Regions from separate parts of the Homo sapiens genome. Here region 1 is linked to region 2. A link means that fine-mapping ties the variant in region 2 to the expression of a gene that starts in the linked region. Tissue or cell type: whole blood. Region 2 holds a variant in brackets; the other region holds the start of a gene. All regions are shown on one strand. Distances are between the middles of the regions.

Region 1 (2,682 bases), 180 kb before region 2:
GGACACCCCCATATCGCATTGTGTCAGGTAATTATGAAGTGTCGAGGCGCGGGAAGGAGAAGCCGGGAACGTCAATGTGTCCTCTGCAACGTGTGGGAGCGCTCAGAGCCGCGCGTATCACAGAAACATCATCCAGTCGTCACCCCCAATGCCTCAACCCAGGGACAGGGACAGACTCAATCAGACCTCGGCCCCAGGCGTGGCAGGAGAGGGCCAAAGAGGGGACTTGTGAGCGCAGAGGGAGCGAGCACCGCTCCATGGAGGGCAGGCGCTAGCTGGGAAGTCGGGAGGAGAAAGTGCAACCAGGCGGGGAGGGGAGGATCCCACCGGGGCGTGGCGAGGGCGTTCGGGGTCCGGGTGAGCGGGACCCTACGCGGGACCGTGCGCTCCCAGAAGCTCCCACTCAGCCCAACCTTTTGGGCGAAACCCAGGACACCCAGATAAGGGTGCAGGCGGGGTCACGCGTAAAGCTGTTACTTTGAAGCAGGGCATAAGTGAGAGAGAGATAAAGAGAGAAGGAACAAGGGGAAAAAGAAATGAAGGGGCTGAAGGCCGAGATGTCCTACTTCTAAGTAGTTCTTTGAGAGGCAAAAGCTTCATTGCCATTGCAGTCCGAGGCAGCGCCGCGTGGAGGACCGGCCGGGCGGGGCGCGGGGACCTCTCCAAGGGGTCTCCAGCCTCCGCGCACTCTGCGGTGGCCCCCGGAGGGGGAAACTATTCTGGCAGCTCAGTGGGGGGAAGCTCGTCCGGGCTGTGGTTTCCTTTCCCCGAGACCCCAGCGTTGCACCCCCGAGGCGGCAGGCTCAGTCAACCCTCCCCGGGGGACGGCGGCCCTCTAGCCAGGCGACCTCAGGTCTCGCGACCTCCCGCCGCCCAACCTTCTCCTTTCACCCCCATTCATTTTTCCTCAGCGGCTCCTAGGACGGGCTCAAAAACCAACTCCACACGCAACCCAGCCCACCTCGCGGAGCTGAGAAGCAGGGCTGGGTTCCGAGCGGGCGCCGGCGCCCCTGGCGTGTGGCGGGGAGGTGGCGGCCGCGGGGGGCGCCGCGAGCCGCCCGTGCCCGCCGCGGATGAACAGGCGGCTGCGAGCAGCCCCCGGAGCCGCGCAGCATCCGCGTATCCAGTGACGGTGGAAGCCACGCCCGCTCGAGAGCCGGGGGGCTGTCCTCGCCCCCCCCACCTTTCCCCTCCCTCCGACCCCCTCCCGGCCGCGCTCCCTCCCCTCCTCCCGCGCCGGCCCCCGGCCCGCCCCCGGCTCGGCTCGCGGGAGGCGCTGGGCGCCGGGGCTGGCGCGCTCTCCCGGGCTCACACACAGCCGCGCACGCACGCCCGGGGCCGCTCTCCGCGCCGGCCCTTGCTCCCCGCGCCCATGCGGACGGACCGAGCGACGGAAGATGGCTGACGACTCCACGGGGCCCCGAGGATGCGGCCCGGCGGCGGCGGCGGCGGGAGCGGCAGCGGCAGCGAGGGCGGCAGGGGCAGCGGCAGCAGCGGCGGCGTTGGCTGCGGCGGCGGCGGCGGCGGCAGCAGGAGCCGGAGCGACGGCGGCGGCATCCCCGAGACTCTCCGCACTATCCTTACCCGTGACAGCCACTGACGTCCTCCGCCGCTAGAAGAGACCCCGCTTCTCGGCGCCTGCCCTCCCCCTCGCGGCTCGGTCCGGCCCCGCCAGCACCGCTACCTCCGCCAGCCTCGCCACCATCAGCACCACCTCCACCGCCGCCGCCGCCGCCACCACCACCGCCGGCGGCGGCAGCAGCCATTTCATCTCCACAGAAACCAGACACAAAAACATGGCAGAAATGGAGAAAGAAGGGAGACCTCCCGAAAATAAACGGAGCAGGAAGCCGGCTCACCCAGTGAAAAGGGAGATCAATGAGGAGATGAAGGTATTTTTTGATCTCGGGGGCCAGGGAGACTGAGCTCTTTCTTGCGCCCGCTCCCCGTGGGCCGTGGTATGGATCTGGGGGGTACCGGGGCGCGCTTGTCAGTTTCTGTAGGATGCCCAGAACGGCTCCGCTCCTCCTCCAGGTGTAAAGCAGAGGCCAACTCGAGGGCTGCATCCCCGAAATTGTTGCCAACCTCAGATTTGATGAGGGGGGACCACATACTATTTAACCTTACGAATCCCAGGTTGGCACGGACGCGTTTCAGGGCGAGGGCACCGGGGACTCGAGCGGCGTTGGGCAGGGGAAGAGGCTTTCCCAGTGGACGGTGCAGTTTCTCCCCCCTTTTTGAGAATCATCCTCAGGGTCCCTCCAAAGTTAGGAGCCTCCTGGCCGGGGCACCCCGGAGAGAGCTCTATTCCACCCCTCTCCCCCAGCTCACCCTCCTGCTCCTCAATCCCGCTTCCCCCCAACCAACCAGCTGCGACGGCGTGAAGAGCCCGTCAGTGCCCGGCGAGCTGCGGCCCGAGAGGCGCGGGTCTGGGCACGGTCCTGACCGCTCTCCTCGCCCGCCCCCGCCCGCACCTCACCACTGGCAGCCTCCGCCTCCCGCTCGCCTCTGCCTGCCTCACTTCCCAGCCAAGCAGACCCCGGCCAGCCCCGCTGGAGGACAGCTGTCTGAGGGGCGGCCTTTGCAGGGCGCCTGTCCATTGTTCGCTAAGGCCGGCCCGGAGTCCTCTCGGCGAGGCTGGGCTCCCCGCCAGGCCAGCGGTGCACCAGAGGTGGAGAGCGC
Region 2 (2,682 bases):
GTTATTCCTGTTCCATACCAAGTAGCATTTTCTTGGGTTTTTGTTTTTTTTTTTTGTACCTATTCCCTGTTTCAGTGCATGTACAGGAAGAGTTGTCTCATCAGGTGCCACTAAGGAAAACTTTCTCCATCAAGCTGCCTGCTGTGCACGTTGCCTGGGCTTTGCCTACCCCTGGTGCTGCATCTGCCTGTGTTCTGTCTTCTGGTTCTGCTGTGCTGTGGGGGAGGGGACGCTTGTACTCCTCTCCTTTTGGCAGGAAGAGTCACTTCCACATTGAGGTCAGAATTGAAAATGGATTTCCCCGTTGGGCAGAGGGATGGAGGCCTGCACTTCCTGTGTAGTGTAATTAATCGCTGCCCCTTCCCTGCCTGCAGCCGTCCAGGCTCAGGGCCGGCCCTGATTAACCATTTCCTGCCCAACGTTGTGAAGGCTACGAAAGACCTGTGTGAGCTTTCGCATCCTTCCTTCCTACAAGTTCGCTATTAATCTCTTGTAGGCCATCCCTCAGGTTAGGGAGCTCTCTGTGCTGGGCTCGTTTCTGCTGTGTGGGGAGAACTCAGTGCCCAAGAGGCTCCATGGAGCAGAAAAGCCTGAGTCCAGAGGAAGAGGGGCAGGAGCTGAGGAAGCGAGGACGGCAGGGCCCTGCTTACGGAGCAAATTTAGTCCATCTTTCTCACTCCCTTCCCATGCCCATGGCTATGTCATCTCAAATGGACAGGGCTCAAAAGAAGGCTTCTCTTCGCCCTTCTAGCTGCCTGATTTTCATGTCATCTGAAGGTACAGTGAGTAAAGAACATGACCTCAGAGATGACATTTGGAAGCCTTTAGGTTGGTTTGAATTCCTGCAACTTCGGAGCCGTCCCTTTCTCACATGTGCATAAGCCATGACATTTGAGAGCTGGAAAGGACAGGATTGTTCGTATTGTTCAATGCCCTCATTTTTGCACATGTGGGAAGTGAGGTATAGAGAAAGGCGGAGTGACTTGTCTAGTGGCAGTTAGCTCGTGAGTAGCAGGATCAAGATGGGAACCCGGGTCTTCATGAACTCTCCGAATGCTTCTTTCAGCAGTTACTTTGGAATTAGAACCGATTAAAGTGTTTGCTGCCTTGATGTGGGGTGTGAGTTGTGTTCCACAGACACAGAGCTCGGTGGATTAATGGTGTGCTGGAACGTGTTTAACTGTGGGCTCTCTGAGGGGAAAAAGCGTGATTATCCATAAGTACGTAAGTTTATTATACATTTTGCT[G/A]TTATGAAAGATGTGGAACATGCAATTTATAATAACGATAAAATATATAACACTCTTTGTTATAAATTCCATAGAACCAATAGATTCTCACAGCATGGTCTTGTTGATTTTTGTTGAATTCTTGTAACTACCTGGTTGCAATTGCTGAATGAGTGTAGTTCTGATATAAATGTTGAATGATATTTTCTTGTATGTTAATGTATTAGACAAAAGTGAAACCACGAAGACATAGGTTGAAACCTCACTCATTCATCAACGACATGAGTGACTTCTTTTCTAAATCAAATACTGGGAGAATATTTCCTCAAATTTTCATGTTATTCACAATGTAACAGCCACAGACACAGACGTGGCACTCTTTTGAGTTTAATCTTCATTATGAACATTCCCCATCACTTTAAGTCTAGACAAGCAACAAAACAATAAATCAAGACCTGATTCCCAGCACTTGCCAATTTACATCCATGGTGTAAATATTCTCACCATGACAGATTTCAAGCTAACACTGTGATGTCACAGAACTCAATTAGAAAGACATGTGTAGCCACACATTCTTATATAATTTTCTACTATGCAGATATAATAGATGTAAATAACCTCAAGAGAATAGATGATAATATAATGTAGTAAAATAATGGAAACGATATGTTCTTAGCATTTATTACCTTTTCTTTTAATATAACTTATTTAAGTGTGTATAATTTAACTTTTAATAATGTCTATACTTAACAGCTTCTCAGAAAATTTCTGAAAATTTAGAATCAGCTCTTGTGAGCTGATAGAAGCAACCTCCAGCGTGTCACTAGCAGAAGATCAATGGGATGGTGCTTAGCCTGGCTTTACTCTTCTCAGTGTATACCCAAGGCCACTAGACTGAGGAGGCCAGGACGATGGCTATTTGGGTAAGAAGGCATGGGCCGAACTCATGCTGAGGGATGGGGTAAATTTAAGAACAAGAATTAGATCCCATGTACTAGGTAACTAAAGATATTTCGGGGTGCAGTTTCCAAATACTATAGAAAATAGTTTTAAATATCAGACTGTCAAGAAAATGGAAAGGAAACAAGGGGAGAAGAAGAAAGAGAAATAAGAAGGAGAAAACCTGATTAAATAGTAAACGCTTTTTACTAAAAACATAATTTGCTGACACAGAACTTAGGCCTGCTTTTGCGGAAGCTGCCTGACCCATCGCTCCTGCAGCCTCCCACAGGCGCGCACTGTGGTGGACATGGGGCGGGGCCCCTTGGGTATTCCCTGTTTGAGGACCTGACCTCTTACTTCTTTGGAAGGAGAGGATGAGATTACCAGAGCTTTGGATCCATTTTTGGATCAAATGAAAACCGCAGGCTAATCCTTAATGCGTCCCTCTCCTCTTACAGATGCTGGCCTCACCCCAGGGGCGGGGCATCAGATGCCTCACAGTCCCAGCCCGAGG

The links. PIP is the estimated chance that this variant, and not a neighbour inherited with it, causes the effect.
Region 1: it holds the start of SOBP, and the variant in region 2 is fine-mapped to the expression of SOBP in whole blood (TOPMed, PIP above 0.99).

Annotation. Positions count from the first base shown.
Region 1 is chr6:107,488,821-107,491,502 of GRCh38, forward strand. SOBP (sine oculis binding protein homolog) reads left to right here and starts at 1,297. Exons shown (of 7, transcript NM_018013.4): 1 at 1,297-1,892. The coding sequence starts at 1,797. RefSeq lists silencers at 1,527-1,576, 1,617-1,676.
Region 2 is chr6:107,670,740-107,673,421 of GRCh38, forward strand. No RefSeq gene overlaps it. Among named protein-coding and RNA genes, the nearest start is that of SCML4, 150 kb to the right of the region's middle. RefSeq lists enhancers at 132-191, 2,590-2,682. The variant G/A (reference allele first, on the strand shown) is at 1,248.